Homo sapiens: one gene and its partners. The protein of the gene in region 3 purifies or fractionates together with the protein of the main gene of each other region. This does not show direct contact. Each region holds a gene or a part of one and is shown on either strand. Other genes may lie near its edges. The genes, in order: LYRM4, ZC3H4, EFCAB13 and NFS1.

Evidence for each region.
Region 1: the proteins of EFCAB13 (region 3) and LYRM4 purify together in Homo sapiens (affinity purification with mass spectrometry; one large-scale study listed by BioGRID and IntAct). This does not show direct contact.
Region 2: the proteins of EFCAB13 (region 3) and ZC3H4 purify together in Homo sapiens (affinity purification with mass spectrometry; one large-scale study listed by BioGRID and IntAct). This does not show direct contact.
Region 4: the proteins of EFCAB13 (region 3) and NFS1 purify together in Homo sapiens (affinity purification with mass spectrometry; one large-scale study listed by BioGRID and IntAct). This does not show direct contact.

The regions. Positions count from the first base shown.
Region 1 is NC_000006.12:5,250,827-5,254,506, forward strand, and holds part of LYRM4 (LYR motif-containing protein 4), read right to left. Parts: intron 1-3,680.
Region 2 is NC_000019.10:47,063,687-47,066,231, forward strand, and holds the end of ZC3H4 (zinc finger CCCH domain-containing protein 4), read right to left. Parts: 3' UTR 501-2,545; downstream 1-500. UniProt on the Homo sapiens protein: RNA-binding protein that suppresses transcription of long non-coding RNAs (lncRNAs). LncRNAs are defined as transcripts more than 200 nucleotides that are not translated into protein.
Region 3 is NC_000017.11:47,322,457-47,326,910, reverse strand, and holds the start of EFCAB13 (EF-hand calcium-binding domain-containing protein 13), read right to left. Parts: upstream 2,957-4,454; 5' UTR 2,837-2,956; exon of another isoform or gene 2,812-2,836; intron 2,458-2,811; 5' UTR 2,388-2,457; intron 686-2,387; 5' UTR 524-685; intron 1-523.
Region 4 is NC_000020.11:35,692,834-35,696,513, forward strand, and holds part of NFS1 (cysteine desulfurase isoform a precursor), read right to left. Parts: intron 3,628-3,680; coding exon 3,544-3,627; intron 1-3,543.

The DNA of each region.
Region 1 (3,680 bases), on a different chromosome or scaffold from region 3:
AGAGTGAAAGCAATTTTTACAGACATGTATGATGTGTTCAACATTTCATAGAGAGCAAAACTCTTATTTGGCTGCTTAAAATAGAATACAATGTTATTTAAAAAATATTTCTGTAATACGATATATGACAGCCAAAACATCATTATGCAAGGTGTCTCCTCAGCCCCAGTACATTCTGCAAATCTCCACTGTTCGGGCACTATTTCAATTTGCATGCTTCCTCTGTAAGTTTCTTGAGCCGTCCTTATATGTACATTGCATATGCGCAACCATACTACAATCTTGTGACAGCAGGGCCATCTTGTGTTTGATTCCACCTATTACTAGGTTCTAGTGTGGTAATATATACATACACACACACACACTGTGAGTTTTCAAGAAATATTAGGAAGAAATGGATTTGTTGATTTGTCTCCAGAAGAATATTTGGCATGAAGGCTTTCACTGTAGCTGCCCTGTTTTACAAAGTGAAAGGTGCTTGTTAATACTATTCATATTAGGGTGGTATTTGAATTAGTCTGTTCTCACATTGACTGGCTAATTTATGAAGAAAAGAGGTTTAATTGGCTCACAGTTCTGCAGGCTGTACAGGAATTGTGATGCTGGCATCTGCTCAGCTTTTGGGGAGGCCTCAGGAAGCTTACAATCATGGCAGAAGGTGAAGGGGGAGCAGACACATCACAGGCCAGAGCAGGAGCAAGCAAGCGAGGAAGGAGATGCCACATACTTTAAAACAACCGGATCTCATGAGAACTCACTCATTATTGTGAGGACAGTACCAAGGGGAATGGTGCTAAACTATTCATGAGAAACCTGCCCCCATGATCCAATTACTTCCCACCAGGCCCCACCTCCAACACGGGGGATTGCATTTCAGCATGAGATCTGGGTGGAGACAACATCCAAACTGTATCATTGCATGCTAGCCTTCTTGATCAATCAGTGACACATAGGGTGGAAGAGGCAGTCACTGTTAAAAGATCCGCAACAAGGAAAACATGTGAAAGAAATCCTTTGATGAGTGAGAGGGCTGCCTGGTTCCCACTCCAGGAGCTCATGGTTCTAATTCCTCAGCTTGCCAATAAATCTGGATTGCGACTGGTAATATATTAAAGAGTTCCAATGGCTCAAAAAGAAAACAGATTCCTAAACACGAATCATTATTTGGTTCCTTCATTAAGACAGCAATCACAGATATCAGTGTTTCATTCAGTTGTGTAGTACATAGTAAGCGAGACCTGACGTTGATCAGCACTTAGGTTGATCAGGACTTAGGAATTTTACCACTCATGAAACTAGGGAGCCTGTTTAACCATTTCACCTATAAGGAGGAACTGTGAAAATAAACTTCTCCAGGTTGATGTTTCTACAGATTTTGCAGGCTTATTCACAGGATGCATGGGTGCAGGAATTTTCTTCTGAAAAGAATGGGGTTGTGGAAGCGGCAGCCCACGGGGAGCGAGGCGGCCTTCTAATCCCATTCTGCCCTTGACCAACTGTGAGACCAATCAAGTTGCTTCTCCTCTCTATGCCTCACTCTGCCTTGAAACCTATTTCGTTACTTACTGGGGATTTTACCTAGCATTTAACATCATGACATTTAGCTCAGTCCAACACTTCAGCCACAATTACCCACGTCTGGTTCTGACACACGCCTTGCATTTTACTTTTCACATGCCTTACTGTCTTTGCCTGGAATGCTCTTCCATCGCATGTCCACCTCTGTGGCTGACACAGACTGTTGCCTAATCAATAGTTCTTCCCACCGTTTTCTCTCTGCTGTCTTTTCACTAGAGATGCTAGAATAGCTGTATCCTAATTTTCCAGCCTGTTGTTTACCTAGTGATATAAACGTAATGAAGTTTTGGTCAATGAGCAAAAGCAGAGTCCTCCTGGAAAGCTTTACCCTTTCCTGGCTGTGACTGCCCTTCTTCTTCCTGACTAAATAAGGATGTATTTGGAGCTTCAAAAGCTGTTTGCAACCATCAGGCATAAGCATGAGAGGAACACCGAGACTCACACATACCTTGACATTTTCTAGCTGCTAAATAAGCTCTGGCAGCTACATACCTCTAGACCTTTCCTATGTGAGAAGAATAAGCCCCCAATTAAGCCCTGTGTAAGGGCTTCCTATGACTTCTGGTCAAAAGCATTCCTAATTTTAAGGTGGCACTTAGGAGACCAGCTCCTTTCTATGGCCTTTCCTTTGTACTTCATTGATAAACTTCTTTAGGAGCTTGTAATGTTTTACCCTTAATAGGAGGCTCATTTTGATCTGAAGCTCTTTGCACAATGCTTAGTGTATAACACATTAATAAAAACTCAAATATCTGATGAAGAATTAGGGAGTTCTGACACTACACTTGGTATGCATTTGGGCATCACTTTAGCCTTTTCTCAAGTTTTACAATAACATATTTCTTAAGCTATAAGAGGGATACATTGAATATAATTTTCTCTTGCATTTCAACAATGAATATTTATTATGTTGGTGCAAAAGGAATGCAGTTTTTGCATTGCTGGAATTTGCTGTTTGATACTGGAATAAATTCTTAAATAAATGTGGTTATGTTATACATCATTTTAATGGGCAATTCTCAGTTTTTTTTTTTGCTAATGACTTGCTGTTTATGTTTATTTTACACTATGGAAATAATGTTAGACAAAAAGTAAATTTCAGCAATTTTCTTATTTGAGCTCAAAATTGGTCAAAAAGCTGCAGCGACAACTTGCGACAACTCATTTGGCCTAGGAACTGCTAACAAAGGTACAGTGCTGTGGTGGTTCAAGAAGTTTTGCAAAGGAGACGAGAGCCTTGAAGATGAGGAGCCTAGTCGCCGGCCATTGGAAGTTGTCACCGACCAATTGAGAGCAATCATGGAAACTGATCCTCTTACAATACTCGAGAAGTTGCCAAAGAACTCAATGTTGACCATTCGATGGTCGTTCGATCTGAAGCAAAATGCAAATGTGAAAAACCTCAATAAGTGGGTGCCTCATGCTGAGCAAAAAAAAAAAAAAACCATCGTTTTGAAGTGTTGTCTTCTCTTATTCCATGCAACAATGAACCATTTCTCGATCAGATTGTGATGTGTGATGAAAAGTGGATTTTATGTGACAACTGGTGATGACCAGCTCAGTGGCTGGACCAAGAAGCTCCAAAGCACTTCCCAAAGCCAAACTTGCATCAAAAAAAGGTCATGCTCACTGTTTGGTTGTCTGCTCCACTAGAGCTTCTTGAATCCCGGCAAAACTGTTTCATCTGAGAAGTATGCTCAGCAAATCCATGAGATGCACTGAAAACGGCAATGCCTGCAGCCAGCACTGGTCAACAGAAACGGCCCAACTGTCTCCATAATGACCCTTGACTGCATGTCACAAAACCAACGCTTCACAAGTTGAACGAATTGGCCTCATCCGCCATATTCATCTGACTTCTCGCTAACCAACTTCCACTTCTTGAAGCATCTCGACAACTTTTTGTAGGGAAAACGCTTCCTTGACTAGCAGGATGAAGAAAATGCTTTCCAAGAGTTTGTAGAATCCCGAAGCACGGATTTTTACGCCACAGGAATAAACTTATTTCTTGTTGGCAAAAACATGTTGATTGTAATAGTTCCTATTTTGATTAATAAAGATATATTTGATCCTAGTTATAATAATTTAAAATTCATGGCCCA
Region 2 (2,545 bases), on a different chromosome or scaffold from region 3:
AAACTGTATTGATCATGCATTCAGCCATCTATCCACCCATCCTTCATATTTGTTGATGCATTTCAAAGTAAGTTCCAACATCACAACAGACCCCTCCTCAGAGGATACCCCTGGCTATCACATGGGTAGGGTGCCTGCTAAAGCTCGTCCCGTCCCTGGAAGCCAGCCCAGCTGTCCTGTCTGTGTTAATGGTCTTTCTATGAGCACTGCAGGGGCAGATCCAGGACTGTGCAGGTCACCCCTGGATCCCAAATGCTGAGCGTGGCCCGCACAGAAGCTCAGGGACCTTGGGATGTTGCTAGTAGGTGATCTACTGCCATCCACTGAGGACAGCTGACACTGTTTGGAGGCACAAATTGTCCCTCAGTGTCCTCATGTTACCCTGAGGCCGACCGCTGAGAGAATAGGTCCTTGTTTCACCCCCCAGCCACCTTCCACCCTCGTTAATTCCCAGGGCAAGGGATGGTCTGGGGCAGCCTGGAGAGACCAGACCCACAAGCTTTTTAAAATAACTGCATCCTTTAATGGCAGTAATACAATTACTGGATTAAGAGACCACAGGAGAAAGGCAGGTGACGTTTCTGGAAGACAGATATGGAGTATAAAAAGGGTGTGAAATAGTCATGCGGCGATCATTGTAAAAATACAGTTCATTATATACATATTTGCACCACCAACTCTCAACTCTGAAACAGTATTTACACTTTTGTTACAATCCTGGTTAGAGAACAATTTTTCTTTAAAAGCTCGGCCTGATGGCAAATGAGAATTTCGGGTGAATTCATAGTCCTATGAGGTTCTTAGGCTGAATATTCCAAGAGGAGGGCTCCAGCTTCTATTTCATCCACAGATTTCGGTTTAAAAAATATTTTTCTTTTACAAAAGAAAATTCTCAAAAGGAGAGGAAAAACAACAACAAAAACCACAACACTGCCACACTGTGTATTCATACTTATTTTACAAACACCAAGGGCTGTGCCCTCTGCTTCAAGGCCAACACTGGTGGCTGAAGACAAATCTCATTAATGATTGTGTAAAAAAAAAAAAAAAAAAAAAGACAAAAAGACAAACCAACCAACCAGATCCCAGCACTGACCCCTCAGGGCTGTGCAGCCCTGTAGGACACCCTGCCTCCTGGCTCCAAACTATGAGTTTTTCATTTTTCTCTTTTTGGGGTGGGGTGGGATAGGAGCCTTGTTCACCCCACCCTGAGGAGGAGGGAAGGGGAATCCCTTGGCAGGTAACTAGGTCTCTTCATGGTCAGCAATGAAGAGCTTGGCCTGCAGCCACATGGTGGGCCAGGGAGACGGGCAGATGCAGCCACAAGCACACACTTCCTGAGGCCCCTCAAGTGGCCCAGAGGCAGGATAGCAGGCCTCCCCCAGCACCCCTTGCGCCCATCTCTCGGGCTGTGTCCATAGGTGGGCCTCCTCCAGGGCTCTGCAGATGAGGCTGGCCCTCAGCCAGGGTGGGAGCATGGGGGGAGCAGAGGCTCCCCATCCCCTGGCTGCAGGGTTCCCACTCAGTCCGTTTCTTAAGTGTCCACAAATCCCACAGAGCAACACACCTTGGAACACCTGCATCTGCTGGCTTGGGAAAGGAAACCCGAACACATCAATACCTCATGCCCTGCAGGTCACACAGTGTAAGGAGGTGCGAGGAAAACAGAGAACACTTGGCCAGGAGCCACCCCAGGGTCCCCATTGTTGGGGCCTGGCGGCGCAGCCACTGCACGGATCCTGGAGCTGTCCGGGGCTGGGCTGCAGTGCAGGCATAGCGGGTGCGTGGCTTGAGGACCAGGACAGACCCTGGTGTGGGCAAGCAGGGTGTGGCCCACCTGATAGGACAGGTGGGGTAATACTGACAGAACGTGCGTGCTCCTAGGGGCTGCCTCCTAGAGGTGGCTCTTCAGGACTCTGCCCCACACCGGCCCCCACTACCTTTGGGTCCAGTTCTCACTGTGGAGGCTTCTGCTGCAGGCTGGGGGGCATCCGCTTGCTCTAGACGGAGGGTGGCAGGGAGGGCACGTGTGGTAATCCAGGGACAGGAGCAGGCATGCGCCAGGGAGCCCCCATAGTGCCGCTGGGGGCTTTTTCCTTAATACCTTTTCACTCTCACTGTCTCCTGAGTGGGTTGTTACAGCCTGCACTGAAAAGACAGTGATGGTGCACCCTAGGGTTCTAGAAACGCCTGGACCTGCTTCCACGCAGGCCCTGCCATGGTCTTGGTTCCGGGTCTCTTCGGGCACAGGGTGAGGAGCGTTCAATACCTTCCCAGACACCAACTGTTCCCTTTGTCCTGGGGAAAAGGGGCCATGCTTTGCCCAGAAAACCCACTGGGCCTCCAGCAAGGCCCGGCCACGCAGAGCCCACAGAGTCTGAGGCCAGGCACTGGCGAAAGTTCACAGGTTTGCGGGCATGAGTCGGTTTGCTCAGCAGGAGCCCCTGAGCCCGCCACACTGACCAGAACTTAAGATGGTTATATACAATTTACAAATCTCAAAGAAAGTACTACTTTAAAAAAAAATAAAAGAGACGGAAAGCAA
Region 3 (4,454 bases):
TTAAAATCATTTTTATTTATTTCTGACATATGTTTATAGTCATTATTTTTCAATGTGATATGTCCAACATTCCTGGAATTCAAAATATGTTAAAATAAAATAGAACCACATTGAAAATACTCATCTCAGAAAATACTGGAAATCTATGCAGGTCTCCCCAGTAACCCATCCTACGTAATCTCTTCTAGATCTTCTCCAACCAGTTCAATATTTACCTCTAAACTACTGTGCATAGCACTTACTGCCTTCACTATTCTTGTCTTCACTATTTAACTGACATTAATCATTTGCCTTGTATTTGTATTTTTCATATGTATAGCTCCTATACCAACTATAGCCTAAATTTATAAAGAACTGGGACTGGTAACTTATCATTCTTAAAATTATTTCTCACAGTATCAAATACAATGGTATATATATAATGAAGGAAAGAGTAGAGGAAAGGAGGAATGGTATGGAGGGAGGGGAAAAGAGAGGGAGAGAGGGATGAATGAACAAATTCCCTTCCTACTAAGCTACTCACCAAGATTTCTTAAATCATCAAAGTGCTTAATTAAGCAGAGTTGACACGTTTTGAATAAATCTTGAAAGGAACAATTGTTCTGTAATTTATTGACGAGATTATCAAAAAGTTGGCAGGTCTTAATTTGCTGGATGAATCAGGTACCGCATAAGCCTCTCCAAACTTAAAAGAAAAAATTAACTTAGAAAGTCTATTCCCTGTAACTCTGACAATATAATTTTTCTCAACTATTTCAATCCTGTCTTCTATCGGTGAACTTGCAGGAACAAATCAAGAGAAATGGAGGGAGTCGTATCCCTTTTCTCCAGTCATCTATCCATTCACCTTTCTATCCATGAATTCAACGTATATGTCTGCATGCTTAGTGTGCACTAGGTTCTCTCCTAGGCTCTAGGGATATACCAATGAACAAAATATATATATGCTATATATATATATATATATATATATATATATATATATATTTTGTTTATATATATATAAAATCTGCCCTCATGAAGCTTATGTTCTAGTCAGGGAGTGAAATAATAAAATAGAAAAATAAAACATATTGTATGTTATCTGCAATAAGTACAAAAAAAAAAGTAAAGCAGGGAGGGGAATATGAAATGTAGTATAGGGGAAGAGATGCAGGGAACAGAATGGGTGGCCAAGGAAGACCTTACTGAGAGGGAGACTTTTGAGTACAGACCTGCAAGAACTGAAGTAGGGAGCTGATTAATATCTTAGGGAAGAGCATTTCAGCCAGAAAGAAAAGTAAGTACAAAAGCCCCGAGGCAAGAAGAATGTTCAAGGAATAGTGGGAAGGCCCCAGGAGGCTGAAGCAGGAGAGATCAGAGAGGCTAAGTGAAAGTGGCATATCATGGAGGACCCCTAGATGACAGTAAGAACTGTGGCTTGTACTCTGAAGGAGTGACAAGCATTGAAAGAGTTCTGAGGAGAAGGATTACATAATCTGAAGTTCTTTCTGAAAGGATCACTCTGGTTACTGTGAGGAGGGAAATCAGGTAGGTCTGGGTTCCTGAATGCCAAGTGAAGAAAGTACTTCAAGAGTGAGCAATCAGGCTGTGCATGGTGGCTTATGCAGGTAATCCCAACACTTTGATGCGGGGGTGGGGGTCTAAGCAGGAGGGCTGCTTAAGGCCAGGAGTTCAAGACCAGCCTGGGCAACAGTGAAACTCCCACCTCTACAGAATTTTTTTTTTAATCAGCTGGACATGGCGACCTTAGTCCCAGCTACTCCAAAGACTGAGCCAGGAGGATCTTTTGAGCCCAGGAGTTTGAAGCTGCAGTGGGCTATGATTGCACCACTGCACTCCAGCCTGGACGACAGAGACCTTGTCTCAAAAAAAAAAAAGGGGGGTGGGGTGGGCGGTTAAGATCAGTACTGAATGGTTCGCTAGGTTTCACAACACGGAGGACACTGACAAACTTGAAAGGAGCCATCTGGGTGGGGTGGTAAGGAGACAATGTCGTCAGAGTGAGTACAAGAGAGAACGGGGTAAAGAAATTGAACCCAGCCAGTAGGGTAGGCTCTTTCAAGGAGTTACGTTGTTAAGAGAAATAAGGCAGTAGCTGAGAGGAAAATGGGGCTGTGAGGCTTTAAGATGAGAAAAACAAAGGCGTCTTCACTGAAGCATGACTCTGTATGACATCCTTTCACAAAATACCTTCCTCTTTCCTCTCATGCCACATTTCCCTCACAAGCCGCCCGACTCGCTCGCTTTTCTCTCGCCAGAGGGACTGAAAACGTCATTAATACCAACTGCATACACAACTCCATTGCAGCTACTGCCATTCATGAACGTTCAAACTTTCGTCACCCTGTTTTCATATTTGTGTAACAAACGTCGAGTGAACGAACCTCCACCTCTTCCAAGAACCCACGCTGAGGAGGCTTCCCATAGACCCTGCTCTTACGAAGCCAACGACTTCTACAGGAAGAAAGAGGACCTGTAAGCTAGCGAGTGAACGACCCGCAAGATGGAAATGAGTGTGCTAATAGAGGTCTCCGCCTCCCGCTGAAGGAGCAGGGAAGTGACACCACCCCCGGGACCGCCAGCCTTCTACAACAACCACCATTTCTGAGGAACCACCTGATCAGTCTCAGTCACCCTTCAATCTGCCCCTTTGTCCCACTCAGTCCCCTCACTGTTCCTTTCTGGAACCTTCCTTCACCCAGCCCCACCACTGTTCTCCTTCCTCCCTCGCACCCTACTGCATTCTCCACCCTCCACCTCGAAGGCTCCCCTCCCAACTCCTCAGCGGGTCTCGCCTCCCCTCCCCACCTCTGTCCCCCAAGGGTCCCACTACCGGCCCGAGCTGCCCTCCCTTCCTCTCGGCTGGAGGCCCCCGCGCTCTCTGTGGTCAGCCCCTGCCGCCCCTCGGGCGGCGCTGCTCTAGCTCTGCAGCCTTCCCAGGATCCCGCGCCGCGCGGCCCCGCCCCCGCGGTCACCTGACCGAGCCCGACGCTCCGCCCACCGACCACCCCGAGCGGAGCGGGCCCAGGACCCTATCGGCTGTCGAGCCGGTGCTGCCGCGGCCACCGCCACCGCCCAGGGGCTCCGGGGCTGTGGGGAGCGGCTGAACTCAATACCGCCTCCGCGCTGACTGGAAGGCACTGCGGCCGCGCCTGCCTGCCCCACCTCGTAAGGGCCTGTGACCTCACGAGGCCAGCCGCCGGGCGCTGCATTCGAGCGGTGGGGCTCCTGTCCGTGCGCTTTCCTCCCGCAGCCCCGGCCGGGATTCCGCCCTCCGTCCTTGCCACCCGCTCGCCACTCTTCCCTAATCGCTGTTCATTCTCCGGTGCGCTGTCCCGCCATGGTCTGACCCCACTTCAATCTTACCTTCGGTCCGTCCTTTGAACACCCCGACCCCCGACCCCTTTCTTCCAAAACATTCCATCCTTCTTGGCTTCTGCTACTCAATAATGGACAGCAGCTCGAAGGCCATGTGTCCCACGGCTTTGCTGAAATTTGTCTCGGGTTGCCTTTAAGGAGACTGTCGTTTCCTTTTGAAAGAGATACTTTGGTTGGTTTGGTTTTCTTCTGTGTGTTTGTTTTTCCTATGTATTTATCGTATGCAGTTGGGCAAAATACTTAACGCTCCCTGAGTCTCGATTTTCTCATTCTTCCAGGGTTGTGGGAATTCAAAAATATATACGTAGTGCTCAATAAATGTTACAATATTTAATCCCTTCCGTGATACTACTGTGTTCATTTACATCTTAAACCTTGCTTTGTAGGCATTCTTTAATATTTTATTTAGATTTTTATTATTATTAAATATATGTACAAATCATAATTGTAAATATTTAATGGGGTACAATGTTATATTTTAATATATGTATACAATATGGAACGACTAAGTCAAGCTTAACATATCCATCACCTTGTTTAACGTTTTTTATGGTGAGACATTTGAAATTTACTCTTAGCAGTTTTGAGATATACGATATATTATTATTAGCTATAGTCACCACACTATGCAATAGATCTCAGAAACTTGCTGCTTTTGTCTGACTGAACCTTGTACCCTTTGAACAGCATCTCCCCATCCTGCATCTCCTACCCGCCCCGTCCCTTTCCAGCCTCTAACAACTATTCTACTGTCTACTTCTATGAGTTTGACTTTTTAAGATTCCACATATAAGTGAGATCATGTGGTATGTGTCTTTCTGTGCCTGGCTTTTTTCACTTAGTATGTCCTCCAAGTTGATTCATGTTGTCACAAATGACAGAAATTCTTTTTTAAGGCTGAATAGTATCCATTGCATATGTTGATTCATGTTGTCACAAATGACAGAAATTCTTTTTTAAGGCTGAATAGTATCCATTGCATATGTTTACTACATTTTCTTTATCCATTCATCCATCGATGGACACAGGTTGATTCCATTATCTCAGCGATTGTGCATAATGCTGAAATGAAC
Region 4 (3,680 bases), on a different chromosome or scaffold from region 3:
TCTACTAAAAATACAAAAATTAGCTGGGTGTGGTAGCAGGCTCCTGTAATCCCAGCTACTCAGGAAGATGAGGCAGGAGAATCGCTTGAACCCTGGAGGCAGAAGTTGTAGTAAGCCAAGATTACGGCACTGCACTCCAGCCTGGGTGACACAGCAAGACTCCCCCTTGGGAAAAAAAAAAAGAATTAACAGTATCAACTTTGCAGAACAGGATCAGGGACTGGGGTCCTTGGGGAAGGAGAGGAAGATTTACACTTCATTTTATTTTATTTTTGTTTATTTATTTTTTGAGACGGTCTCATTCTGTCACCCAGGCTGGAGTGCAGTGGTGTGGTCTCGGCCCACTGCAACCTCTGCCTCCCGAGTTCAAGCAATTCTCTTGTCTCAGCCTCCCGAGTAGCTGGGACTACAGCCACCACACCCAGCTAATTTTTTGTATTTTTTAGTAGAGATGGTGTTTCACCATTTTGCCCAGGATGGTCTCGAACTCCTGAGCTCAGACAACCTGCCTGCCTCGGCCTCCCAATGTGCTAAGATCACAGGCTTGACCCACTGCACCCGGCCTACACTTCATTTTAAATCTTTCCATTGGTTTTAAAAAAACACACCATATGTGACAGAATTATTTTTCAAAAATTAAAAACTTGGAAAGAAAATGTGCATCTCTCCCCAGAGCTTATAAAAGACTATTACCTTTAACAGCAGAATAAAAAGCCAGGTGCAGTGGCTCAAGCCAGTAATCCCAGAACTTTGGGAGGCAAAGGCAGGAGGATCACATGAGCCCAGGAGTTCAAGACCAGCCTGGGCAACATAATGAGAGCCGCATCTCTACAAAAATTAAAATAACAGGCCGGGCGCGGTGGTTCACACCTGTAAAACCAGCACTTCGGTTGGCCAAGGCAGGCGGATCACAAGGTCAGGAGATCGAGACCATCTTGGCTAACATGGTGAAACCCCATCTCTACTAAAAATAGAAAAATTAGCCAGGCGTGGTGGTGGGAGCCTGTAGTCCTACCTACTCAGGAGGCTGAGGCAGGAGAATGGCGTGAACCCAGGAGGCAGAGCTTGCAGTGAGCTGAGATCACGCCACTGCACTCCAGCCTGGGCGACAGAGCCAGGCTCCATCTCAAAAAAAAATAAATAAATAAATTAAAATAACAAAATTAGACAGGCGTGCTAGTACACGCCTGTAAGCCTAGCTACTTGGGAGGCTAAGATGAGAGGATTGCTTGAGTCCAGGAGTTCAAGGCTCCAGTGAGCTGTGATTGTGCAACTGCACCCCAGCCTAGGTGACAGAATGAGACCATGTCTTTTTTTTTTTTTTTTTTGAGACAGAGTTTCGCCCTTGTTGCTACAGTGCAATGGCGCAATCTCGGCCCACTGCAACTGCAACCTCTGCCTCCTGGGTTCAACTGATTCTCCTGCCTCAGCCTTCCAAGTAGCTAGGACTACAGGGGTGTGCCACCACACCCAGGTAGTTTTTGCATTTTTAGTAGAGACGGGGTTTTACCATGTTGGTCAGGCTGGTCTCGAACTCCTGATCTCAGATGATCTGCCGGTCTCAGCCTCCCAAAGTGCTGGGATTACAGGTGTAAGCCACTGGGCCCGGCTGAGACCCTGTCTTATAAAAAATAAACACATAAATAAAATAAAAGCAGAATATTAAACCATATAGGACAAAATTATAACTATGTAAAAATGGTCTGTTCATGAGGACAAAGAACATAAATGAGAAACATTTATAATTGATTTATACTCTATTTTATCCTAAAAAGTATTTACATCAGTAAGTAAAAATGGTTGTGGGGCACTTTGGGAGGCCGAGGAGGGCGGATCACGAGGTCAGGAGATCGAGACCATTCTGGCTAACACAGTGAAACCCTGTCTCTACTAAAAATACAAAAAATTAGCCGGGTGTGGTGGAGGGCGCCTGTAGTCCCAGCTACTCAGGAGGCTGAGGCAGGAGAATGGCGTGAACCCAGGAGGCGGAGCTTGCAGTGAGTCAAGATCGTGCCACTGCACTCCAGCCTGGATGACAGAGTGAGACTCAGTCTAAAAAAAAAAAAAGAAAAAATGGTTGTGGGATGGTGATGATAGTTCAAAATGTTACAGTTGTTTATAAAAATTTCATTTAAATGACATTTCACCACCCACCCACCTTATTTTATCTCAGTTACCCATGATGTAGATTTCTTTAACAATTTATAGATTATTTTACTCTACCAATCATGGAGATTAAAAGAAACATCATCACAGGTACTCTTAGCGATCCTTGACCTGTTGGTTTGGAATCTGTGGAGACTTCCAAAGAAAATATTTTCGAAGTTTTGAAAATGCTCTCCATTTCAGAAACCATCTCCACCTTTGGAGGAACCTTCACCCCGACTCTCTGGTCTCTGCAGTCCCAAGGAAGGATGCCTTCCTGTTAACATGATCAGGCAGAGTGCTGATGACCCTGAAGCCCGTCCTAGGCCTCCTATATTCAGGCCAAGGTCAAAGAAACCAACACTGGCAGCACAGTTCAAAGACAAAGATGAGAGCAAGTGGAGCCAGAGTTCAAAGTACAGCAAGCCACAATTTCTCAGAGCCTTGGCATTTACTCACATAATCCTGGCAACCAGGCCCAGTGAAATCTGACTATGTTCTATGAAACACCAACGTGACTACTAAAAGTACCTTTTCCTTGCATTAGCACCAAAGATCTTCTATGTACCCAGGACAAAATGACTGATCCCAGAATGGGTGACCATGTGAATGCCTGCAGAGGGCACCACAAAGACAAGCACTTCAAAATGGAGATATCTAAAGAAACAGGAGGAACTTGTTGCAAATAGATCTGATCAGAAAGAAAAAGGAAGGCTGAGAGGAGGACAGCCCTGAAATCACATATATAACTTGTTGTTACTAGATAAAAAGAATGGAGAAAGGCCGGGTACGGTGGCTCACACCTGTAATCCCAGCACTTTGGGAGGTCGAGATGGGAGGATCATCAGGTCAAGAGATTGAGATCATCCTGGCCAATATGGTGAAACCCCATCTCTACTAAAAATATAAAAATTAGTTGGGCATGGTGGCGGGCACCTGTACTCCCAGCTACTCTGGAGGCTGAGGCAGGAGAATCACTTGAACCTGGGAGGTGGAGTTTGCAGTGAGCTGAGATTGCGCCACTGCACTCCAGCCTGGCGACAGAGTGAGACTATGTATCAAAAAAAAAAAGAAGAATGGAGAAAAGGTTCAATCACCATTATCCACTCTCTGAAGTAACTGCCAGACAAAAAAAAAACAAGTGGTTAATGGCCTGAGGGCCACCTCCTTTGCTATCCAACTGCCTCACTCAACTCAGACCAACAGCAGCAAAGACTTAAGAAAGAGTAGACTGCAAAGGGTTAAAGGAAGCAACAAATCAGAAAGACTGCAAGCCTTCTCTTCACAATGGGGTGGGGATGGATGGCTGCGAAATACATATACGAGTCCAAATGATGGAGGGACACTATCTCCTAGGTCAGGAAAGCCCACATACACCCTCTGGTTCCCTTCTCTTACCTTAATTGCTATGTTGTTGGATTCAGTAGCACCACTAGTAAAAATGATCTCACGAGGATCAGCTCCAATCAGAGATGCTACTTGCTGCAAGCCAAGAAACAGAGATATATAACATCAGTTCCCCAGGCAGAAATAGA